6 separate regions of the Homo sapiens genome follow, and regions 2, 3, 4, 5 and 6 are each reported to be linked to region 1. The links are microRNA targets in miRTarBase. Many come from high-throughput screens and were not tested one by one. Region 1 holds a microRNA gene; each other region holds the end of a gene's coding sequence. Distances are between the middles of the regions.
The links. Region 1 holds the annotated microRNA hsa-let-7i-5p (UGAGGUAGUAGUUUGUGCUGUU, at 1,086-1,107, opposite strand). A microRNA usually pairs through its seed, bases 2 to 8, with sites in the 3' UTR of a target mRNA and lowers its output. Matches are read on the target gene's strand: a 7mer-m8 pairs with bases 2 to 8, a 7mer-A1 pairs with bases 2 to 7 and ends in A, and an 8mer does both.

Region 1 (4,076 bases):
CAACGAAAAGTACTAAAACTGACCACTTACTTCCCTCAGTGAAAATAAAATAAAAATACAAGTATCTTGTTTTCCACGCAGACTTCAGGGTATTAGAGCACTGAGTATTTTCATTAGTTATCCAAACTACCTTTTTTCTCTATGCAAAGGTATTTTCCTATTAGGAGTAGTGGCCACTCAGGAATCAAAATGAGTGTTAGTAGATTTTAAACTCAAATCTAGAAACCACTTTCAATTCCTAGTCCTCTTCTCCCATACAAAACCTCAAAGATGTAAGTACCACATAACATTAGAATCAAAGGCCATAAAAACCAAAAAACCAACCCACCACACCAGCAGAATCTGAGCCCCAAGGTTAAACTAAAAAGAAAAAACAAAAAACAAAACCATTCACAGCACACTGTACATAGAATTTATTTGTTTGCCTCATACATTAAAAAATCGGAATAGTGCAATTACCTACAAATAATTTCAATCTTCTCATTCGCGAGTTGCAAAGTTTAAAGAGAAACTTTAAATTGCTTTGGGTTTACGTTTTTAAAGACACACTCAGATTTACTAAGAGAGCATATCAGAAACCAGATCTAAAATGTTAAGGCATAAACTTTAATTATCAGGTCTACTTCTTCTGCCCCTCTAATGCCAGTTCTGCAGATCGCTCACACCACTCCAACCTACAGCTAAAGAATGAAGTAAAACAGGTACACACTAAATTTGGCATTTAACTGCTGAAAGAAGTGTTAGAATTTTTTAGGGTGAAAAAGTTATCTGTATCAATTATCTTACACAATTCCACTCCTTCCTTCAAGAAAAGGAATCCAATGGCTTAGCTCTTTCCCAACCTTTAAAATGCATCGCGGTCCACCCCACTCCCCTCAATTCCTTCTAGGAAAATGTGAAACTAACGGTTTCCGTGGTGGCCGCGCCGGCCGGGCGCCGAGGCTTCGCGGGCTGTCCCCAGGCAGCGCCCCGGAAAACAAAGGGGATTCCCAGCCATTGTCCTCCGCGGCGCTGAGCATCACCAGCACTAGCAAGGCAGTAGCTTGCGCAGTTATCTCCACAGCGGGCAATGTCACAACCCGACCAACAGCACAAACTACTACCTCAGCCAGGGCCATGGTGTCGGGGAGGCACGGGACCACGCGGAGGGCAGCAAAGCGGCTCCGGCGCTCCTCCGTCCTTCCTCGCCGCCGACGTCGGCCCGCCGCCCCTTCTTTTCCTTTGCCTTCCCCCCGCGCCGCGCCCGGAGACCCCGCCCAGCACCCAGCGGCTCGGCTACTCCCGGCGCGCCCCGAGAGCTACGGGGATGAGAGGCGGCGCCGGCGCCCGGGTGATACAGCCGGCGTTCTGTACGTCAGCCACCGCTCTGAAGAGAGAAAAGCGGCGGTGTCCTGCGGAGAGAGCCGCTCCCTCCACTGCCCGAGGGGAGCGCGTCGCCTCAGCCGCTCGAAAGCAGGAAATGGGCGGCAAAAGCGCAGTCAGACACCAACTGGTTCTGGACTGCCCCCGAGAGGCAGCGAGCAGCGCTCCCGCGCTTCGCCCGCTAGGAGCTGCCGCCACGTCCCGAGCTGCGCCGCTCGCGCCCCTCCCTGCTCCGAGTCCCCGGTGGGGGCTGGGCTGCGGCCGAGTCCGGTACCCGGGCCCCCACCCGCGCCGCGCTGTCGAACCCGCCGCCGGCCCGCTCTCGGCGCCGATAATCGCCGGCGGGCATCCCGCAGAGGCTGCCGCCGGCTCCGCCAAACAGCAGCCAAGGCATAGCCGGGAAGTCCCCAGGCCACCCGTTCCCCAGCACCCTTCGGGGAATTCCCGTTCAGCTCTACAGGAGGCGAAAACGGAACAAACGAAAACCCCTTAACAGTGAAACCGGGCCCGGCGATGGCCCGGGTGGCGACTGCGACGACTCGACGCGTGCGGACACAAGACCCGTCTCGCGCTCCGCTGCTCCTGTGCGTCCGGACGAACCTTAGAGATCACTTAAGGAGGCTCGCGCGCTACTCCTCACCACGTGACCGCCCCGCCAGGCCGCCCCCCGCGCCGCCATCTTACATCCGGGACAGAGGCGGCGTCCCCTTTCCCTGCCTTGGCAGGCGTCAGCGTGCTACCAGAAATCAGCCCTGAAAGAGGGGACCCCGATTCCACGTCACCAGAGTGCTGAGGCAGCGGGCGATGCCCTCCATCGGCTCAGCGGGGGGGAGTGGAGTCCCAAACTTTTTTCGGCCTTTGCCCGCAAAGAAGATGGCGGCGCATATCGCCGCCTAAGCGGACACGTTGTACCCTGGCCGTGGTTTGAAGTTTCCGGCACCTCCTTTCCCAACCAGCAAGGACACAACCATACGAGCCCCACCCACGCGGGGTGGCTGCCGTGCTACATTCCGCAGAAAACAGGCGGGAAAGCTGCGGCACAGCCCGCTTTAAACGCAAGCTTTTGGGACTTCTGGTTTTGGCTTTTTCTTTTTAAGCCAAGTTAGGGAGAAGGCTGACTGCCATGGAGCCACTTCTGCTTTTGGCCCAGACAACTTACGGGATTTTTTTTTTCCTCCCATTTAGAGATTTTTTGTAGGAAGTTAACAAATTATTTTAAAGAAGTAGTTAGGGCTTGTCAGATAAAATACAGGACGCCCAGTTAAATTGGAATTTCAGATAACCAGTGTTTTGGCATATGTGTGTTACATATATTTTTAAAATTGTTTATCTGATATTCCAATTTAACTGCACATTCTCAATTTTTAATGACTGTATCTGGCAACCCTATCAGCCTTTACCCCTGAAAATCCAGACTGCTTATGACAAAAGTAAGGAATGGAGGGAAATGAAAAGCATGTTTACCTACAACTTAGAATTGTCTTTGCCCAGACTTTGATCCTTCATGGAGGCCAGAGGGCCGTGGTCTAGAACAAAATTTGGCAGCAACTCATAAAGATATCCTTGTATAATTCCCTTTCTGGCAAAGTAAGATTTTTTTTTTCTTAAGCTATCACGATGTAATTTTGGACAACAGATCCTCTTGGCCAAGAGTTTAATTGCAAATTAAAAATTAAATAACTGGCTTTTTGTTTCTATTCTACATGGTATAGGCGATGGGACCCAAACAATTTCTTAAAGTAGAAGTTTTCAAGTTAAAAATCAGCCTGCCTGACATATTTCATAAGAACATTTTTAGGTGCATATTCAGAAACTATTTCCAATTAAGAATATTTGTGTAAACATAATACATTTGCAGTTAAATGCTTTACCTGACAAAGCATAAACTCACCTATCAATCACTAAGCATAAACTCAAAGCAAAAACTCAATCACACCATAAACTCATCTATCAATCACTTACCAGAAAGTCTGTAGAAACTTCACACCATCCTTCCTTGATAAGCAAAGATTGGACTGCCATGGGAATCAACCCTCACTGCTCATTGACTGCGCAGTGGATCAGATTATTCTGTACCAAAGCAAATGTCCTTTGCCATAATGGCACAGATTTTTAAATGGCCACTAAACACCTGTTTGGTCTATGGTATACAGATTTGTTACAGCAGTAGTTTCCAACTAAATTTAGTCATTATACTACTTTATCACTTACATTCCTTTCCATAATGTTTTTAACAGTGCTAACACCAATATACTCATCATCCACATATAATGTACTGTTACCATCAACTTTTTCTCCCCCCTCCCTGCATATCAGGAATCTTAAGTATCCTTTCTGAATATGACCACCGTTAATCAATTCTTTATCATCACCTCATAGCAAGAAAATTGCAACAGCTTTCTAGCTTAGCTTTCCATACTGTATATATCCTATCCTGCTTATGATTGCAAGTTTATCTTCCTTGGTTTTATAATTTATTCTTAAATCACTCCAGACCCTGCCATCTCAAATCTAAACTACTCTCCTTGGCTTTCAAGGAATTTTATGAAGGGACCCAATCCTTCACAACCAACCTTGTTTCACACAATACACCAAAATGCACTGTTTTCTATTTCACAGATATGCCTTGCTCACATTATCTTGCCTGAAATCCCTCCGTATATCCTTTGAACTCATCCAAAATCTAGGTAGCCATCAAGACTAACTTTAATTTC
Region 2 (4,087 bases), not on the chromosome of region 1:
TTCTCCTTTGGTCTTATATGATTGTTACCTTTATGAAGCTTTAGTGATTACAAAGCACTTTTTTTGTCCATTTTTACCTGAGCTTTGTAAACTCTGATTTGCAGGTAAGGAAATTTAGACTAATGGTTTAACTGAGTGCCTAAGAGCACATAATTAATAAAGGACTCTAAAACTCAGATTTTTAGATTTCTTGTCTAGCATTCATTTCACTGTATAATAGCTGCCATGATTCAAGGTATCCTTTTCCCCTCACTGGATGCAGCTTTTCATTATATAGTTCTTCAGTGTGTTTCTCCAGGGCTGATCTGTTAAGTGCACTGATGGAATTTTTATACATTCCCAAGGTATGTACAAGTAGATGCTTACAAAAAATTTTCATCGGTTGGAGAGTTTTTCCTCTACTTTCATCTTCATATCCCCATTGTCTAGTATGTGGCTTGCATATAATGCACATCATAGGTGGTTAGTGTTTTCATAATTGTTAAATTAAGATATTGCAAGAATTAAAACATGACTTTAATATTATATGTATTTTTTCTTAGGATGGCTGGCTGTGGTGAAATTGATCATTCAATAAACATGCTTCCTACAAACAGGAAAGCGAACGAGTCCTGTTCTAATACTGCACCTTCTTTAACCGTCCCTGAATGTGCCATTTGTCTGCAAACATGTGTTCATCCAGTCAGTCTGCCCTGTAAGCACGTTTTCTGCTATCTATGTGTAAAAGGAGCTTCATGGCTTGGAAAGCGGTGTGCTCTTTGTCGACAAGAAATTCCCGAGGATTTCCTTGACAAGCCAACCTTGTTGTCACCAGAAGAACTCAAGGCAGCAAGTAGAGGAAATGGTGAATATGCATGGTATTATGAAGGAAGAAATGGGTGGTGGCAGTACGATGAGCGCACTAGTAGAGAGCTGGAAGATGCTTTTTCCAAAGGTAAAAAGAACACTGAAATGTTAATTGCTGGCTTTCTGTATGTCGCTGATCTTGAAAACATGGTTCAATATAGGAGAAATGAACATGGACGTCGCAGGAAGATTAAGCGAGATATAATAGATATACCAAAGAAGGGAGTAGCTGGACTTAGGCTAGACTGTGATGCTAATACCGTAAACCTAGCAAGAGAGAGCTCTGCTGACGGAGCGGACAGTGTATCAGCACAGAGTGGAGCTTCTGTTCAGCCCCTAGTGTCTTCTGTAAGGCCCCTAACATCAGTAGATGGTCAGTTAACAAGCCCTGCAACACCATCCCCTGATGCAAGCACTTCTCTGGAAGACTCTTTTGCTCATTTACAACTCAGTGGAGACAACACAGCTGAAAGGAGTCATAGGGGAGAAGGAGAAGAAGATCATGAATCACCATCTTCAGGCAGGGTACCAGCACCAGACACCTCCATTGAAGAAACTGAATCAGATGCCAGTAGTGATAGTGAGGATGTATCTGCAGTTGTTGCACAGCACTCCTTGACCCAACAGAGACTTTTGGTTTCTAATGCAAACCAGACAGTACCCGATCGATCAGATCGATCGGGAACTGATCGATCAGTAGCAGGGGGTGGAACAGTGAGTGTCAGTGTCAGATCTAGAAGGCCTGATGGACAGTGCACAGTAACTGAAGTTTAAATAAAAATGTCTTCAGCTCCATGCTCAAGGTTGAAAGGGTTACCTGTAAATTTCTGCCCACATAACATTATACTCATCCCTAGTAGTGCATTTTGGGAGTTGGGGTGGGAAGGGGTATGGGAAGGATAGACTCATAATTAAAATGTCTAACATGTCTCTGTTGAGAAATTTATTTAATGTAAGGAACTTGGGTGTTAATAGTTGAGAGCTGTTTAGTAATAACCCAGTTTTCTTGAGGTCTGTTTACTTTATACTTTTTAAAAACTTCTGTAGTTCTTTTGGCCAGTGTGTTTGTATTATCTGTGCATTAATGGTCCTCATCTGACTCCTGCATTGTGTCTTATTTTTCTGCATGGATTGGCATAAGACCATTACTAAAATTTGGCACCTGTGAGATGTTTGATATTATGAACAGGAAACATAATTTAATGTATGAATAGATGTGAATTTGGGATTTCAAAATAGATGAATAACAACTATTTTATAGTAAAGTTATTGAAATGGAAATGAAAACAGCCAGTAACTTATGTTTCAGAATGTTTGTAACACACTTCATGGTGTTCCCATAGGCTTTGCTGTCTAGTCTTATAGTTTGAGGTTTTTTTGGTCTGCATTTTTCTTTTTGATTACAAAATTTATAATTTAATAAATACTAGAGTTTATCAAAAACAGTTTGTCTCTTGTTTGAGGGTGGAAAGGGTGTGGAAACATTTTGACATTTGTGACCAAAGGTCACTTAAAAAGTGGTGGTTTTAATTGGTTGTTTTCAGCTTAATCACCTGCTCAGAAAAGTTTGATTTTTTTCTTAGAGATTATTTAAACAGAATCTATAGGCAGTGTGTATATAATAAACATGTATGGAAATAAAACTAAAGCCTGTGAGACTTAAAATTCCTCAAATAGCATATACCGTTAATATTTTATATTTTCCTTACCATATTCATTAGTAGTCTAACACTCTGGATTAAATGGCAGACTTAACGGTGTTAGCAGACATGAATTCACTTTACACAAAATGTTGTAGACCACAAAATCCACTTTTATTTGGTAGTTTTTACATCTATGGCCAAATAGTATTGGGTTGACACAGTAATCTAGAGTTTACCTCTGAAAAAAAGTAATGTGAGTCTGTCTAACCATATTTTCCTAACTCAACAGTAGGATCATGATGGTAAGGCAAATGCAAGTTATTTTTACCATGATTCTCAAATGTGAATTGAATGTTACAGTAGCAAATACTTTTGACCTCTTGTGATGAGTCAGAACTAGAACTTAATTCTTTGACTTTCACATTTTTTAAAAAGTGTATTGCTGGGATCATAAACATTTTATGTTGTGCATTTTTATTACATTTACTTTTGAAAGATAGTTGTTAGAAGGTTAGTTGTTTTTCAGGAAAAAAAAGAAATCTGATGTAAAAATGCAAATTTATGTTGCAGGATGCTTCATGAGTCCCTTCAAGTGGTTTAAAACTACATCAACAGTAGTTGTTTATTACTAGTTGGAAATTCCAGGGCACACAAATGAATGTCCAATTGTAGAATCAGTTGACTTTCCATGTCATGGCTACCACTGTTTAGTAGGTAATTTACAATAGAAAACTAATTATTGAAAAGAACAAAGTTCCAAATTTGTAGTGGGTAGTGAGGTACATCTTTTTTTAAATGAAGGGCCATTTCCCATGAATTTTACTCCAGCTGTTTGGAGCAGAAGAAAATGATTGATCATACCCTTTCTTGTTTTCTTGTTCCCTGATACCTCCCCACTTTTGTTCTTTAGCAGCAACACTCAGTTATTTTGGTAAATTATTTCCAGGTAAAACAGAACAAAAATTGTATGAAAAGTAACGCCAGGAATAGGTTTTGTATAGAAGCTCTCCTTTTAAACACTGCTCTTTGGTTATAAGCTAAGAATTATTATTGGAATTGACAGCAATAATTTTTAAGCCAAAAGTGTATATTTTAGCTAAATGTTCCAGATTACGCAGTAAATACCCAAGTGAGTAATTGGCAAGAAATGAGGTAAATGAGTTCAGATATTCAAATGATTAAAAGTAAGTCTGCATATTAATAGTAGCCTTCAAAGTAATTCTGATGTTCATATTTAATATCATTTAACATTTATACATATTAGTCACTGGAGCTTTACTTGGAGTACATCCACACGAAAAACCAATTATTTATTAAATTTTCCTTTCTTAGCAATAGCCTCTAAATTTGCAGGCCCACCCCAAACTGTTCCTAAAAGATCTCTTTCGTTCTGTAATGCTTCCTCCAAATATAGCTCTCTGCCTGAACAAACAGATTTTTTCAAAGCTCTAATTACTTCCGGTGGCCCTTGGATGAATTGCTTTAGCCATTCTTGTGCCTCTTCTAGAGATTTAGTTTCATCTGAAGACTGCAAGACCTCTTCAACCATTCCTATGTTTAGAGCATTTTTTGAATCCAGTTTAAGGGCCCCACTCAAC
Region 3 (4,088 bases), not on the chromosome of region 1:
AAGAGAATTTAAAAGAAGACATTAATAGAAAATGAAAAGAAATTGTGAACCCTTTCAAAACCTTTCAATTCAATGTTCTAGTTCTTCATTTCCTTGATACAACTCTGTACCATGGTCATAATTTTTCCGTCTCATGAATAGGAGGAAAAATGACAGGAATGGAGACTACCCTGAGGAATACTTTTGAGATCAGTGGATAGGTGTTCAATGAATAAGTCAGGTATACCTAAAGAAACACTAAATGTACATGTACATCAGTCAGTATCTCATAGCATAAACAGTTAGTCAAGATAGCTTTCTCTTTCCTAACCGTTTTGCCATACTACAATGATCTAGTTAAAATACAAATTTCACAACTTCAATGATTCTTCACTGCCCACAATTAACGCACTGTTTCATAGACTATGTTCTACCAATTATACATTGCCTACATATAATAGTCACTATAAAGAAATAATGGACAGGCATGGTGGCTCATGCCTATAATCCCAGCACTTTGGGAGACTGAGGCAGGGGAATCACTTAAGGCCAGGAGTTTTGAGAGCAGTCTGGGCAACAGAGTGAGATCTTTTGGCTACACAAAAAATTAAAAAAAAAAAAAAAAAAAAAGTAGGGGGGGTGGGGCTAGGCGCAGTGGCTCATGCCTGTAATCCCAGCTCTTTGGGAGGCCAAGGGGGGTGGATCACCTGAGGTCAGGAGTTCAAGACCAGCCTGACCAACACGGTGAAACCCCATCTCTACTAAAAATACAAAAAAAAAAAATTAGCCAGGCATGGTGGCGCATGCCTGTAATCTCAGCTACTCGGGAGGCTGAGGCAGAAGAATTGCTTGAACCCAGGAAGTGGAGGTTGTGGTGAGCCAAGATCGTGCCATTGCACTCCAGCCTGGGCAACAAGAGCAAAACTCAGTCTCATAAAAAAGGCTGTGGTGAGCCAAGATTGTGCCATTGCACTCCAGCCTGGGCAACAAGAGCAAAACTCAGTCTCAAACAAACAAACAGACAATAGCAGGGTGTAGCAGCACGTGCCTGTAGTCCCAGCTATTTAAGAGGATGAGGTGGGAAGACTGAGTTGAGCCCAGGAGCTCGAGGCTGCAGTGAGCCAAGATCATGCCACTGCACTCCAGGGCAAGCCCTTGTCTTCAAAAAACAAAAAAATTCAAAAAAGTAATGCGTTGAACAAACACCAAGTACAAAGTATACTAATACAGTGGATAAATGCTACTCCAACTCTGATCCACTGACTGCCAGGATCAGCATGACACTACAGATGGAACTCAAGAATCTGTCATAACAGGCTATCCGGCTGATTGTTCTGAATGTGAAAGTTTTAGAAACACTGTTCCAAGGGTAAAAATGAGGGGACCTAATTTCTTCTCTCTTAGGAATCTTACCCCCCAAAAGGTATTGCAAGCATCTGTTGTGGGGCTGGAATTCCTAAAACCTCTCAAAGCATGCTGTGTGAATAAAAGGACAGTGTTCAGATTTCTGACTCTAACAGACCATCTAACCATGGAAGCCTACAGCCCTTTTAAAACATGTACTTTCAATGTTGTGAGCTGAGTATATATAACAACATATTGCTAGTATGTAAATGTGCTTAAAACAAAAATGAAGTTCTTATCTCTAGCAGAACTGGAGTCACACCTAAATTACAACATTCAGACAAGGCCTTCCTTTTAAGTAGACATGACAGAATTTTAAATTTATAAAACGAATTAATGTATCGCATACATTCACTTTACATATTCAAAAAACGCTAAACTTAAGAAACTGAAAAGTTGAAAAATAAGAGGTAGTAGTACCCACTGAGTGACGTTCTGGCATTCTATTAAATATTCTACATTAGAAGATTATAGGGAAAAGGGAGCTGAATTCTAAGAGAACAAATGTAGAGAAGGCAACCCTATGGTCTTGGGAAAAGACAATAATGGAAGGAAAAATATATTCAAAATGTATTGTACAAATTGTTAGACATGCATCACTTACAATAAACAGAAGGTAATTATTTGTGGTAGCATAAAGAGAGAAGGGAATAGGCCAGGCACATTGGCTCACGTCTGTAATCTCAACACTTTGGGAGGTGGAGGCGGGCAGATCACTTGAGGTCAGGAGTTCAAGACCAGCCTGGCCAACATGGTGAAACCCATCTCTACTAAAAATACAAAAATTAGCTGGGTATGGTGGCGCACACCTGCAATCCCAGCTACTCGAGAGGCTGAGGCAGGCAAATTGCTTCAAACCTGTGAGGCAGAGGTTGCAGTGAGCCGGGATCGCACCACTGCACTCCAGGCTGGGCTACAGGGTGAGATTCTGTCTCCAAAAAAAAAAAAAAGAGAGAAAGGAATAGAGTGTTTTGTTAGCTCTGGTCATTCCCACTCTTCTTCTCTCTTGTTGCTATTACTTTGAAGCATTTGGTTTGGTTATTCTATTTTGTTAAGGAATAATTAAAAAGTACATTACTAACAGTTTTGCTTTATATATTGTGTGCCTTGGGCAAAATTTGTGTGTGTGGTTATTCACAGAGGAGGAGCCAGATAGGTAGCTCAGTCCATAAACTATGGAAGGTAGCAGTATCCTTTACTGCAGTGGCTTTCAAATTTGACATGCACCAAAATCTCCTGGAGAGCTTGTTAAAACATAGAAAGCAGGGCCTCATCCCCCACGTTTTTGATTCAGTAGGTCTGGGTTGGGGCTCGAGAATTTGCATTTCTAACAAATTCCTAGGTGATGCTGATGCTGATGCTGATGCTTCTGGTTTGGAGCACATACTTTGAGAACCACTGCTCTAATGGAATCAGTAGTCACAAGGCCAAGCAGCCAGGTAGACACTAAGGGAAAACAGTACCTCCCTGTGTAGGTTTTCAGGACACAACATTAGTTACAAGTTTTATCACCTGCTCAACCAGGTATATAGCTATGTCAATTCTCAAGGGCTTTAACTGACAAAACCAGTTGTTAGAGGACAGTTCTTTCAAGGGTGAACCCAACACCTAAAAAAAGTTTTGAAAAAGTCAGTTATTTGCCTATTTAAGGACGGTTTTAGAATCCACTATTATGGGAATGGATCTGCTTAGCCTATTTGAGGTTTTTTTGTTTTTTGAGACAGAGTCTCGCCCTGTTGCCTGGGCTGGAGTGCAATGGTGCGATTTTGACTCACTGAAACCTCTGCCTCCCGGGTTCAAGTGATTCGCCTCCCTCAGCCTCCCGAGTAGCTGGGATTACAGGCGCCCGCCACCACGCCTGGCTATTTTTTTTTGTATTTTTAGTAGAGATGGGGTTTCACCATGTTGGCCAGGTTGGTCTCAAACTCTTGGCCTCGTGATTCGCCCACCTTGGCCTCCCAAAGTGCTGGGATTACAGGTGTAAGTCACTGTGCCTGGCCGCCTAGTGGAGTTTTAATGCCAATATCCTTGGACTAACTTGAAAATGAATAATATAAATTCGAAATTTCTGCCTGCAGTACAATTCAAAATAAGAGTTTCTAAATTTTTTTAATCCTTATGTTAAAATAATAAATAATCTCATTTCAGTTGTTTTTTCACCCAATTACTAAAAAACAAAATAGTCATAAAAAAGAATTCATTTAGCAAAGGTACTATTTGTAGATATTAGCCACTTATTAAAAACATATTTCTATTAAGATTGTTCTTACATTCTTAGATTTAGAACACCTGATATCTGGACCCAGCTGAGTTTTTATTTTACAGATCATAAAACGGATGAAAGTATATCACAGTAATTAATGAAGCCGTTCTAATTTAGCTTGAAGAGATTTAAAATTCCCAGTGATGGCTTGTACTGCTACTGACGAGCTCATAGACTGGAGCTCAACAAGGTAACCACAAACAGCATCCAGGCAGAGATTTGTAAATCTTCTCCTACAACGAAAAAGACACATGATTAATTATACATTTACAAACATTTCCTCCTGCAGGACTTCTTCCCCACCAACTTCTGGCAACTTTAATTCTCACAGGAGAGGAAAGACCATGTGATTAAGTAAATAAGAAATAAAGTAAAAAAGAAAACTTGGGTGTAGGTGGGTTCCATTTGAAGATTTTTTTTTTTTTTTTGAGACGGAGTCTCG
Region 4 (4,088 bases), not on the chromosome of region 1:
TGCCGGGATTGGGTGTCCCACTGCCCTGGCTTGGTGTCCAGCTGGAGGGGGCAGTGCCAAGGGCCCTGTCTCACCCCAGAGGTGGAGGGGTCTCCCCAGCCTTCCTCACCGGGTGTCCCTGACCGCCCTATCCCCTGCAGGCTCCTGCTTCTGGGTGGCCGTGCTGGATGGCAACGTGGTGGGCATTGTGGCTGCACGGGCCCACGAGGAGGACAACACGGTGGAGCTGCTGCGGATGTCTGTGGACTCACGTTTCCGAGGCAAGGGCATCGCCAAGGCGCTGGGCCGGAAGGTGCTGGAGTTCGCCGTGGTGCACAACTACTCCGCGGTGGTGCTGGGCACGACGGCCGTCAAGGTGGCCGCCCACAAGCTCTACGAGTCGCTGGGCTTCAGACACATGGGCGCCAGTGACCACTACGTGCTGCCGGGCATGACCCTCTCGCTGGCTGAGCGCCTCTTCTTCCAGGTCCGCTACCACCGCTACCGCCTGCAGCTGCGCGAGGAGTGACCGCCGCCGCTCGCCCGCCCGCCCCCCCGGCCGCCCTGTCCGCCTTTGCCCGCCTGCCCGCCGCCCGGCGCGGCCTGCTTTCAGACGCTCAATTGGCGTTTGTGTTGGGTTTCCCCTTTTCAACATCCTGCGGTTGTCTGGCTGGTTCCGGGGGGTGCGGGGCTGTTGTTCTTCGGCGACACTTTGGTGGGGGTGGGTTGTTTGTCGCCATAGCCCCTCGCCCTTCCCCACCTGCCTGGGCGGCTTGCCACCTGAAGAGTGGCATCTTGGACCACCGCGGCTGTCCATGACGCTGCCCTGCCCGCCGCCACTGGGGAAGGCCCAGCCTTGCTCACCAAGCACAGAACCTCTGCAGCAGATCCCGGGGCCAGGCTCCGGCCCCGCCTGCGGCCCCAGCGCCACTGCCTGTGGAGGCCCCAGCTGGCCACGGCGCTGCTTTGCTCCGCGCATGCCGAGGGTGTGGCCCGGCTGAGCATGCCGCATGCACACAGCCCCGCCCTGCCGCCCTGCCCAGACTGGACCCGGAGACCCGGGCTGGTGAGCGCCCCTGTCCCCAGCCCCCAGCTGGCTGTGGGAGGGCCTGCCCCTGCCCCCACCTCCTGGAGGGCCTGGTCTGCCCCGCGCCGCCCGGCTCTGTCCACACCTGCTTTGCTCTGACGCCCTCCATTTCTCTGGCTCCGGCCCCTCCCCTGCCTGGGCTGTGCTGACTGGTGTCATCACCCAGGTGACTCCCATGGCGTCCGTGGCACAGCCAGGGTGGGGGTCCATGGGACCCCTCTCCCCAGTGCCCACTGGATCGTGCTGGCCTCTCCCAGATGTCCCCGGGGACCTCCTGCCTCTGGCTGACGGTCCACCCTGTGAATCTTATCAGCCCAGGCTGCTGCCAACAGCGCCCAGCCCACAGCTTCTCCCAGCCTGAAACCAACACATTTTCTAATAAGTTATTTAGACAGAATAGCACTCTGCATGACTTTAATTCTTGGGACAAAACGGTAGTTTGTACCCTAAGACACAGTTTCTGGCCCAGTGTGATGGGGGTGGGTGGCCGGGTGGGTGGAGCGTTTTGCTGTTGGAAACCTGGAGGGAAACCCTGATTGGATGTCATTTCCTGCCATGGAGCACGCCTCCCAGCCCTGGCCTGCAGTGTGGGCAGGGTGGGGGGCAAGGGAGTCCGCAGCCTCCGGGAGGAGGGGCAGGGCGCTGCCTTGGGCTGGGTGGGAAGAGGGGTGGCCGCCTCGGCTTCCGCTGGCCATGCTCCTGGTCTCTCCTTCCTGAGGTCACAGGCAGGGGCTGCCCTGGACGGGGGGCGGGGGGGGTGGCCTGGAAGGGGAGACAGAGGTGGAGGGTGGCACAGGCTGCACATTCAGCTTAGAAGTGGACCTGGCTTTGGTGGCAGGAGAAGAATAAACACTTGCCCAGACCCCTTTGTGTGGGGGAATTGGGGAGGGGTCGTGGCAGGCAGGGTGGGCCACGGAACTGGGTCCCAGGCATCAAGGCCACGTGCAGGGCCATGGAGGGATGCTTCTCACGAGGCGCTTCAGAAGCGAGCGAAGGGACAGAGAAGCCCTGCGTCCAAGGGCCTTTTGTCCTGTTAGCAATTGAGGTGTGCAGAGCACTGTACAGACCCCACTCCCCTGTACATTCCTCCCTGGAGGTGCCCGGTCCCCGCTTGGGGATGGGAGTTTTGTAGACTGTACAGAAATCGGCACCCTATTTTCTTGCAGCTCAGATTTTGTTAATCTGGAATATACAGACAGACGTAAAGTGTTTTAGCAAAATGGAAACAAACAGTTGTGCCTTTTTCCTCTTTTGGTTTGGTTTGGGTTTGGCCTGGGGCTGGTCCCAGTTGGTGCGGGGCATGCTGGGGGCAGGAGGGGCAGGGCGGGCCAGGTGGAGTCAGGTCTTGGGGGTGTCATGTCGGGGTGCTGCCAGCGTCCCTTGGTCCTGTGCCTTTGGAGCCTCGGGCTCCTGGGGTGCAGGGTGCTTGGGGGTGGCTGTTGGAGCCCACCGACGCCAGGGCAGGGCCTGGAGGCCCAGGGACTGCCAGTGTCTCCTTGATATTGATCCTAGCAGATCCCCCTCCTGGGGGTTCTGAGAGTCCTGGGCAGTGTGGCCTTCTCTCATTCTGGTGGCATCTGCGCCCGTGAGTGACCTCTTCCTTGGCTGCACTGCCCTGTGGGTGGTGAGACGCTTGGCCTTTTTTGTTGCTGCCAGGACTTGGTAGAGATGGCAGGAAGGGTGTGCGGGGTGGTTGTGTGCAGAACCCTGCCGCCCCTGAGGTGAGCAGAGGCACTGGTGTGCCTGCCAGGCTGGGGCGGAGCTGCCCGGAACCCTTGCCAGGCCAATGTGTAGCTTGGTGGCGCCCTTGAAGGCCACTGGGGGGTAGGTGTGTCCTCCCCCGGGGCTGGAGGCCGGGTGCCTGGTGGGTGGGCCTGACCTGGCCCACCTCATCCCTCCAGCCTGGGATCTCACTGCTCTGCACATGTGCACTGACGTGAATTTTATACGTTTGTAGAAACTCTGATGTAACTTCTTCTACCTCTGAAGCGCCCTCCTGGGCCCTGCTGTCACGTGGCTGGTGCGGCTTCCCCGAGTGCTGGCCCCCTGCCCGCTCCCCATGGGCACCCACCACTCAAACTCTGCGTGGTGAGGCCCGGGGAAAGCCAGGCCGGGCCCTAGCACTGCTCAGGGGCCTGGGGCTCCTGGGATTTCTGTGTGTTTGGAAGCCTCTGTTTTTGGAGTGGGGGGCGTGGAAGGCGGGAGGGGCTGACAGTGCCTGGGGCCAGAGCTGGGCGAAGGAGGACATCCTCACTGGACGAGCACTGCAGGCCTGACGAGAGGCTCCGGGCAGCTGAGGGCTGAAGCGCCTCGGGATGCCCCACACTGCCCAGAGCCACGGGTCTTGCTGTGCTGGGGGTGGGGTGGCCCCAGGCAGCTGCCACTGCCCAGGTGTGAGTCGCTGCAGACCTGGTCCCTGAGGGTGGGAGGCCTGCTTGTGCTGAAGCTGCCATGTGGTCTGGCCCCCAGAAGGGCTCCTGAGCGTAGGGAGTTGAGCCCCGCAGCCGTGGCGGCATCTCCTCCTCCTTCCTCCGCCCCATGCCCAGCCTTGCTTCCGGCTGGTGGCATGCCTTGGGGCCGGGCAGCAGGTGAGAAGCTGCCCCCGGAGGGAGGGGCCAAGGGCTGGGTCAGTCTGGCCTGAGGGGTGGATGGCTGGCCCTGGGGGAAGGCTGGGCCTGGGAGGCCCTGTGGACAGCAGGCCTGAGGCCACGAGGTCCTGGGGCCACCCCTCTCCTGCTCTGGGTGTCCTTCTCAGAGAAGATGGCAGAAGGCTGCAGGCCCTAGAGGGGACGACGGGCTGGGGACGCCCTGAGCTTCCTGGCTGTGTGGCAGGTGCTGGGGAAGCTCTCTGGGCCATAGGGACCTGGCTCCCCTCTGAGAGGCCCGCCTGCCCTGGGGCACCCAGGGCTGTGCTGGTGGCCTGAGGCTGGGAACTTGGGTTCCTGGGCTCTGCTGGCGCCTGGGCTTTGTGGGGGCCGAAGGTGGTTGCCCCGCCGGGCAGGGGGCTGTGTGGGCCCTCGTG
Region 5 (4,088 bases), not on the chromosome of region 1:
CAGAGCCCCTGGACACCCCACCTTTCCTTAAACCCTTCCTTAGGGTGGGTATGATTTAGCAGTCAATCCTGATGTTTTCATCACAGAGTCAGAGTGACCTTTGATCAAAACCACATCGCATATATTACTTACATGGTGATGTTTTGTCCTCTCAGATTGCTGGGCCCTTACCAGATGCAGCATATGCTGAACCCTGCATCCCAAAGGCCCTCCACAGGAGCGTGTGTTCAGGATGGAAATGTTTGTTTGCATGACGTGATGGCAACCATGGGTCTTTGGGAATGCAAAAGAAGAGCTCAGGGAAATTGGTTACAAAGGAAATGGTCTTTACCCAGAGCAGCTTTGAGGGCTTCAGGGGAGCAGTGAACTTTGCATACCTGAGCTCTGAGGACGTGCCTGCGTGTGGCTTCTCTCTGTTTTGCCCCGCACCCATTGGAGTTGGCATGTGTCCTTCCATTTTCTTTCCCGTTTATAGGATGGCATAAGGAAAATACACATTTATCTTTAGAAAGGGGCTGTGGTGTGGATTGGATATGTGCAAAGCTGGGTTTCCAAGCTTACAGGCATGAACGAAGTGACTCCAATCACAAATACTCCCTGTCAAGCTGCAAATACATAAACTGTGAGAAAATTAGTCACCTGGGAAAGCTAGATTAACATGCCAACCAGGAAGTAATTTCAAATGCAGTTTAAGGTTTGCATTTATTGACGATACCATTTTGTTTTTAATCGTGTAAATGAGGCCATTTGTTAGTGTTACATGGAGGTTTGGAGGGGATGTCACAGTCCTTCTCTACTTAAGAAGTGTCCTGACCTTTTCTCAGCAACAACTTGATATCAGAAGTTGTGAACTTGGCTGGGCGTGGTGGCTCATACCTGTAATCCCAGCACTTTGGGAGGCCGAGGTGGGCGGATTGGCTGAGCTCAGGAGTTCGCGACCAGCCTGGGCAACACGGTGAAACCCCATCTCTACTAAAATACAAAAAATTAACCGGGCGTGGCGGCATGCACCTGTAGTCCCCGCTACTCGGGAGGCTGAGGTAGGAGAATTGCTTGAACCCGGGAGGCGGAGGTTGCAGTGAGCTGAGATCGCGCTACTGCACTCCAGCCTGGGCGACAGAGTAGGACTGTCTCCCCCCAAAAAAAAAAAAAAGTTGTGAACTTGTGCCTGATTCTGTCTCAGGGTTTGGTATGCCTCTGACTGACTCGCAGGCACTACTTCAGGGGTGATGACTTCTTGAAGGGCTGCTTCGAACCCCACAGCCTTAAGCTCAGCTGACCTTGTTGTTCTACTACCTGTACAAAAAGACAGCCTTTCCCTTTCTAAAGATGTCTCCTAAGTGGGCCAGGATCCACCTGTCATCCAGCTTTATCTCAAAGTAGAGGCACGCTCCAGCCATAATGAGGCATATTCTGTTTTGCCTGTCTTGAATACACAGAGCTGAGATTCACCATTGTTGGTGAGTAGAGATGCACTGAGAGGAGGACTGGGTTTTACCCGATGTTCCAGACCCATCTACGGAGTAGGGAAAGCAGCAGGTAGTCATCACCCACCTTTTGCCTGGGCCCTGCCCCTGCAGCTCTTGAGCACGTCCCCTTGGGCGCCGAGTGCGGTCTTTTCAAAAGGAGCGTGAGAGGAGAGGAGAGGGCGATGGCGCGTGCCCACTGGGTTTTCCTGAAAACACTGCTGCACTGGGGCGCTTTCCATGAGTCATTCCTAGGACAGCCAAGGATACTCTCTGACAGCTCTCTTTAGCCAGTTCCCCAGCTGTTGTAATGGGGTGAGATGCCATTCTCCCTCCCGCTCCTGGACAAAGAGGTCCACATTTTAAATAGTAAAACGGCAAACCTTTAGTTCTTGCTGGTCTTCCTAGCTGTGGCGGGGGGAGTAAATAAGGAACTCTGAAGTGTCCAGTGGCCACCCTGTAAATTCATTTGCAAACAATTCTTAAAGCATTTTTTTTACAGCATAAGAGCATCTTGTGGGCCAAGGAAACTGCAGCTCTTGATTCTACCGTCCAAACCTTTCCCCAGTGGGACTTGATTAACCAGTAGGTGTTACCAACCTGATCCACAGAGACTACCTTGAACTAAGGGTGCTGAGAGGTCTCCGTGGCCACTGGTGACAGATTGATACTCCCGGGCCTCCCCTCAGTGGAGGCGTCTCGCTGTGTGAAGATGCCGTGTTCTCAGATGGGCTCAGCTGTCAGCGTGTGGCCAGCGTTAGGTTGAGCTTCCTGCTGCTTAGAAACCCAAGAGCTCGGCGAGCTGTGTCTGCTGGAGATTGGTGCAGTGAAGCAGCAGGGATCAAGTTAGCCTGGGCAGCTGCTGTGGGATCTGAGTGCAGCATCCCCAGAGGAGCCGCTCCAGCTGCAGATGACATGGGGCCTTGACCTCCGTGCACATCTGGTCCGTCTTCACAAGCCAGAAACAAAACCCAAGTGTATAGCTTGGATGCGGAGGGGTAACAGTTTTGTAGCTGAGATTAATTTTACTCAAGGTTACTTTCTGTAGCCCTTTTTGAAACAAAACATTTCTTCAGTTTGCTTTTTAGCAACAACTCCCGATCTGTAAGGGACCACACTTAAATTAACAAAAGTTAACTGGAAATGGCTTTCCATCTTTATTGACACTCCCTGTCTTTGCACTTAAATTGTACATGCCATTTAAGGAGCCCAACAAGCTTTGGGAACAGTCTCTAACGCATCCCTATTTGCAGCTGGGCGAAGGCCCGCCTGAGCAGGTTAAGTCCCAGGCGGCAATGGTGAGCCAAGCGTGGAACAGCCCAAACTAAAGTCGGGGTCTCTGTGCGGCGGCACGGGCCACTTCGGCACTTCAGTGTTTAAACTTCTGCATGCAGTGTAAAGACAGACAGCTGGCCACAGTGCTGCCCTGCAGTAAAGACCAGCCACCGTGACCGGCTCTCCCCTGCCTCCCTCCTCCCAGCCCACAGTCAGACGGAGCCTCTGTGGCAAGCTCAGGCCCAGTCCAGGGCCCTCAGAGTGTAGATACAGGTGGAGGCCTTTCCAAGTCTTCCAGTTGTCCAGTTAGAGTGGCAGAAAAGTCAGTGGCCATGTTCACCGTGTGCCTCACTCCCTGCAGCCTGGCTGGATGCAGTAAGGCATGGTGGCCTCAACAGCGAGGGAAGGCCTTTATGTTGGGGCCTATGTGGAAACTCTAGCCCCGTGCTTCCATTACATACAAACCGAATATATTAAAGCTTTAGAGTTTTTACAACTATCTATCTTTCCCCTGACATCTCCCCAGCCACCTTAGAGGTGGGAAAGGAAAGGATATAAGAAAACCCCACTAAATGTGGAGTACATTTCATCAAAGTCTGTGTGAGCCAGCTTGCCCCCAGTCACCACGACGTTGACTGCATCTCCCGCCTTCAGGTGCACGATGAGGTGGAATGCCCCCGGGCCCCCGCAGGTATGCAAAGCTCCTGGAGGGCGGTGGTATTCCAGGAACTCTCTCCTGTACCCAGCGGTATGCAGCTGGGCCACGCTGGCGTTGGAGACCGACAGCACTGCTTCCACGTAGGCGTCTCTCTCGGGGGTGAGGGTGGCCGTGATCAGGTAGCGCCCATCATAAGGAGCCGTGAAGACCCCTGCGGGGAGAAAGGCAAACCCTGTGCTCACCTGCTGTCGTCACAGCCCTTGCCATGGTAGTAAGTGGCCCCCCAGTGATTAACCTGGGCCTGGGAGACCAGCCATCTCTGTCTTCCCATGGTAGCTGGCTGCCTGCCTCAGCTGCTTTTTATGCTCATCCCCTACAGCCTACCCGTGATGCAGAGGCCACCTTAGCCCATACCACTTTTTGCCATGGGCCTAAGAATGCCTCTTGGAGGCATTCCTTATTGGAAGCACCTAAAGGCTAAAGTCAGCCTCAAAGCTTGGCTGCTGGGCAGAATACCCGGGAGGCAGGGCCAATAAAAACGAAGCTTGCCACCAACCCAGGGAGAGGCAGACATGGCACCTTGTAACCCCAGGGGCCATGCCAGGCTCCTCGTGGAAGAGGCCCATTCTCCCCATGCTGGGCAATGGCCAGAAGTGAGCACTGATACTCAGCCCATGACCCACACGTTC
Region 6 (4,078 bases), 69 Mb from region 1:
CTGCCCCTGGTTATGTGGCTGGTAGGCATGGAGCCGCAGGTGCACCAGGCACTGCAGTACAGACCCCCAGAGGCCAGGGAGCACCAGCCGGGCTTTGCAGCTGGCTTTCTCGCCCACCCTGGTATCTGCACTATCACCTGCAGACACGAAGTGTGCAACCAGACCCTGGGAGCTTTCAATCTGGAAGACCGGAGGTGGAAGCCCAAAGCTGCAGGGCCAAGTGCCCGTGCACCCCCGTTTTTGTGGTGGGAGAAAAGATACAGAAACTAAGGGGCTTCTGGGATGCTTCTTTACTTTGCGTAATGTGTGCGTTTTCAATTAAAAGTGTACGTTGATTTTTGTAATCAGATTTAAAACGAAACGAAGAAAAGTCTAAAAGCAGAAGAAAAAGAGAAGCAACAACTCGCAGGCCATCTGCTCACAGGCGTTTTCGGTGGTGAGCACCTGTGAGCCGGTGTCCCTGCCCTTACTTGGGCACACAGACTGGGTGTGGAAGGACACTGGTGCCAGTTGGGCACACAGACTGGGTGTGGAAGGACACTGGTGCCAGTTGGGCACACAGACTGGGTGTGGAAGGACACTGGTGCCAGTTGGGCACACAGACTGGGTGTGGAAGGACACTGGTGCCAGTGTGGCCCCCAGGACATTGACGACGGGTGCTGTGAGGGTGGCAGGCCACATGGGGCAGGGCGGTGCCAGCTCTTTCCTCCACGTGCGGCTTTGGGAAGCGGCTGCCTGGTGGACTTGGTGAATGTGATTTCTGTTCCTTCCAGGTCCTTCTATGGCCACGGAAGAGTGGGTGAGGGGAACACCTCTGGCTCCAACATTACTTGTTGGTTTTTTCTTCACACAAATGAAAAATTCAGCATCTCATTTAACTTAAATACCAGTTTTCTATGAAAGACAAAATGAAAAAATATATAAAAAGGTCACTTTATTTTGCCTTTTGTTTGGTATGCTATCAATGCCCTTTAAAATCCTACTATTCAAGTACAAATGCTGATGTTTACAAAGTATTTACAATTTTAGTCTTGTTCCTTTCTATCTTAAAACACAACAGCTAACTGGTTACAACAGTTAACAAAATAATAATAATAAAGGTCACAAAAAGAGAAACCCCTGTCTTATCAGGCACCAAATCTGAACAAGGGCTTGGATCCAACCTTCTGCTTCCCGCCAGGTGCTTTAAAAACAGTCTGGCTAACTGTTTTTATCATCAGAATAAACGTCTTTCTTTAAAGAATAGCAGGGCAACTGTTTCCCAGGGTCGCCAATTAGAGTCTGACAGTGTTCGGGCTGCTGCCTTTATAGTCTGTGTTCTCAAAGTTTCCAACTCTTACTTGCCGTATTGGAATGAACCCAGATTCACAAGGGGAAGGCCTAGACAACAGCTTCCTGAACGCGTACTTAATTCTTAGGTTAGAAACTTTAACCTTTAAAAGGGAAGGCCAAGAAAATAACACACTAAAAGGAGAGTTTTTACGTACACGACTAAATGAATTTAACTCAGGTCAACGGTAGCATCTAGAAGTTACTAAATTGAGTGCTACGAGTAAAAATATGTCCGTGTTTTGTATTAGGGAACAGCCAAAGGAAACACACTTGAGAGACAGGAGACCCTCACTGACGTGAGATCGGGGCGGAAACTCCACATTGCAAATATTCAGAATCCCATTAAGCTCTCCAAAAAAGCATTTGAGAGATGGTGTTAAATTCTCTTGTAGTGTTTTAGATTAATAGAGCGCTTTTACTTAGACAGTTATGTCTAGGATATTCTAAAATAAGTGCACTCAACATTTTATCTTCAACTATAAGGAGACTACCAAGATTTGGGAAAGACAAAAAAAATGAACAGGGCACACAAATTAAAACAAATGACAAAGGCAGAATTCCTAGATACTTCAGTTCTATCACATCTGCGGATGAGGAGGAGTAAAAGTTTCCACTGGGAGCCAGATGTGAGGCGCACACAGCGGCCCTCCCTCCGGCAAGCTGCGCTCTCACGGCACGTGCCAAGCCAGGGAGAACGGGTTGGTTAGAACAAACAGATTCCAGTCCTCTGCTTTGGTATGTTCAACTAACTAAAAGATTAATTTCTTCTGTTTCTTCAAAGCTTGGTTTTTACTTTTCTCCACATTTCTTATCAAGAGCTCAAGTGAGCTCCCCAGTTGATTTCACTGACTCCTGCTGTATCGCTGTCCACAGAAACCTGTGGGACAGAATACCTTCCTCAATGTCACTTAAAGTGAGAGAATGGGGAGGAAGCAGATGAAATACAATTTAAAAACAGAAAATCTTTATTGTGCCATAACTGATTTTTAGTATACAAAAAACCTAATATAACCTAATTTCCTGGACCAAATAATGTAAAATAGGCCAAAATCAAGCCACAGCACAAAGGATACTATTGGATATGGACCTTTTTGCTTTGGTGAAAACTTCAAAGTAAGGAGACACTGTCAATCAATTCCACTAAAATTGCATTTATTTTCCTGTCATAGTAAAAAAAGGAAAAACAGTAGCAAATACTGGGCTTCGTTTTCCCCCTCAACGGCACGCCTTCCACAACAGCACAGGTGGTTCTCTGCTTCACTGGCAGAACCACACAAGCTTATCCTAGAGAAAATCTGCTGTCGTAAGTCCACAAGGAAGAGTTGACTGGGCCCACCGCTATAGCCAATACTTCCAGAATCACCAGCCCACCTTCGTCAAAGGGCTGACTGTGGCAGCAAGGGGTGTCTGTCACATTCGTCCTGGCTCACTGAGCCCAGGCCTCATCGTACCCTCAGCTGTGACATCTGTACTACCATTGCCTCTGCGTGGTCCTCTGGGCCTCACGCCAGCCATGGCAGAGTGTCCCAAAGGTTCTCAGGAGCTGTTTAACACACTATGTCAAATACCAGCTTCCCCCGAAAACTGGAGATGCGTCTTGAGTGCACTGAGTTGGGCATCAGTCCCAGAAGTTTCCATTAAATGAAAGCGAATCCCATTGCAGGGTAGGGCCTGGGGGAGGCCACTGTTGGCTGCTCTTTGGAATAACAATGCAATGACTGATCATTTCCCTTGAACACAGGCCAGGAACGTGCCTTGTGTGTTTAGGTGGGTGTCAGAACATTTCTCTTAAAAGTTAAGTCATATTTTAGGAGGGAAGGAAGGAACCATATTGCCTTTCTTTGGAATGGAAAACCCATCTCGGATGATTGACTTTAGACAGGCCTTCCCCTCTGCGAAGACCACGAGGCATTTTTCAGTAAGGTATAAAGAACTAAACTCTGGCAGACACTGTGGAAGCCCACGCCTTATCTTTAGAAAGTCCATTGTATGCTCCTCACACACGGCAGACGGCTTCTGTGGCGTGCAAAGCACTACATGCTCACAAAGAAATTCTAAATGGCTTTCAGAACACAGTACTATGGCTCTAGGGGACGGGTGCGGGTGGGGACTGAAAGGTGAAATGATTTAGAGGAAGCCATGTTGTCACTTTTTCCATGAGCCACGTAGTACAGAGAACGCGGCACTCCATAAGGACCATTTGTCCTGCAGTGTGGGATGCATTTTAATAAAATGATTACACTATTTTGTTTCAATTATATCTTTCCCAGTGCTGAATCTCTTGCGTGACATGGTCCCAAGGTTCACTAATAAAGCGTTTTCTGTGAGGAAGGTAGTTTTGCTTTAGATGAGAGGCAGCCCTGCTGCCCTGACTACTGGCACGGAGGCTTAGTAGGTGTCTTTAGCCTGACAGCAGGGACCCTCATCTGTAACTTGGGCTGCTGGCTTGGGCTGTCGGAGCTGGCGGGCACCTGGGCTGGGTTGGGAGCGCCTGGAGTCTGGAGCGGGGCCGACGCCGTGGTCACCACCTGCTGCTGAATGAGTTTCTGCTGAACCACCTGGGCAGTCGCGGTCACTGCAGGGATCATCTGCACCTGCTGCCCGGCCGCCGTCGCCTGCGTGAGCGCCACAGTCTGTGGAGAAGCCTGAGCCGAGAGAGTCAGAAAACACACATTGCCCAGGAAACTCAGTCCAGGGACAGGAAAATGGACGTTCTTTGGGATGGGGAGGACTCGAGAAACTTCAC

Region 2: miRTarBase lists ECHDC1 as a target of hsa-let-7i-5p. Seed matches in the 3' UTR shown: 7mer-A1 at 3,638-3,644 and 7mer-A1 at 3,265-3,271.
Region 3: the mRNA of NUP155 is a reported target of hsa-let-7i-5p. Seed matches in the 3' UTR shown: 7mer-m8 at 1,791-1,797.
Region 4: miRTarBase lists NAT8L as a target of hsa-let-7i-5p. Seed matches in the 3' UTR shown: 7mer-m8 at 3,044-3,050.
Region 5: miRTarBase lists EMILIN2 as a target of hsa-let-7i-5p. Seed matches in the 3' UTR shown: 8mer at 1,037-1,044.
Region 6: miRTarBase lists EP400 as a target of hsa-let-7i-5p. The part of its 3' UTR that is shown has no 7-base or 8-base seed match.

Annotation. Positions count from the first base shown.
Region 1 is chr12:62,600,722-62,604,797 of GRCh38, reverse strand. It overlaps MIRLET7I (microRNA let-7i), which reads right to left and starts at 1,112; the gene lies at 1,029-1,112. LINC01465 (long intergenic non-protein coding RNA 1465) reads left to right here and starts at 1,364. Exons shown (of 1, transcript NR_121682.1): 1 at 1,364-3,047. It overlaps MIRLET7IHG (MIRLET7I host gene), which reads right to left and starts at 2,055. Exons shown (of 2, transcript NR_186001.1): 1 at 1,963-2,055. RefSeq lists enhancers at 672-1,193, 1,194-1,715, 1,822-2,011, 2,092-2,201, 1,716-2,237 and 1 more and silencers at 1,042-1,341, 1,432-1,741.
Region 2 is chr6:127,286,074-127,290,160 of GRCh38, forward strand. It overlaps ECHDC1 (ethylmalonyl-CoA decarboxylase 1), which reads right to left. Exons shown (of 6, transcript NM_001002030.2): 6 at 2,639-4,087. The coding sequence ends at 3,796. RNF146 (ring finger protein 146) reads left to right here. Exons shown (of 3, transcript NM_001242850.2): 3 at 543-2,489. The coding sequence ends at 1,620. Among named protein-coding and RNA genes, the nearest start is that of RNF146, 21 kb to the left of the region's middle.
Region 3 is chr5:37,288,160-37,292,247 of GRCh38, forward strand. NUP155 (nucleoporin 155) reads right to left here. Exons shown (of 35, transcript NM_153485.3): 35 at 1-3,879. The coding sequence ends at 3,741. Among named protein-coding and RNA genes, the nearest start is that of CPLANE1, 41 kb to the left of the region's middle.
Region 4 is chr4:2,063,620-2,067,707 of GRCh38, forward strand. NAT8L (N-acetyltransferase 8 like) reads left to right here. Exons shown (of 3, transcript NM_178557.4): 3 at 141-4,088. The coding sequence ends at 508. Among named protein-coding and RNA genes, the nearest start is that of NAT8L, 6.3 kb to the left of the region's middle. RefSeq lists an enhancer at 2,913-3,526.
Region 5 is chr18:2,912,589-2,916,676 of GRCh38, reverse strand. EMILIN2 (elastin microfibril interfacer 2) reads right to left here. Exons shown (of 8, transcript NM_032048.3): 8 at 674-3,610. The coding sequence ends at 3,273. Among named protein-coding and RNA genes, the nearest start is that of LPIN2-AS2, 52 kb to the left of the region's middle.
Region 6 is chr12:132,077,300-132,081,377 of GRCh38, reverse strand. EP400 (E1A binding protein p400) reads right to left here. Exons shown (of 53, transcript NM_015409.5): 53 at 918-3,977. The coding sequence ends at 3,705. Among named protein-coding and RNA genes, the nearest start is that of SNORA49, 48 kb to the right of the region's middle.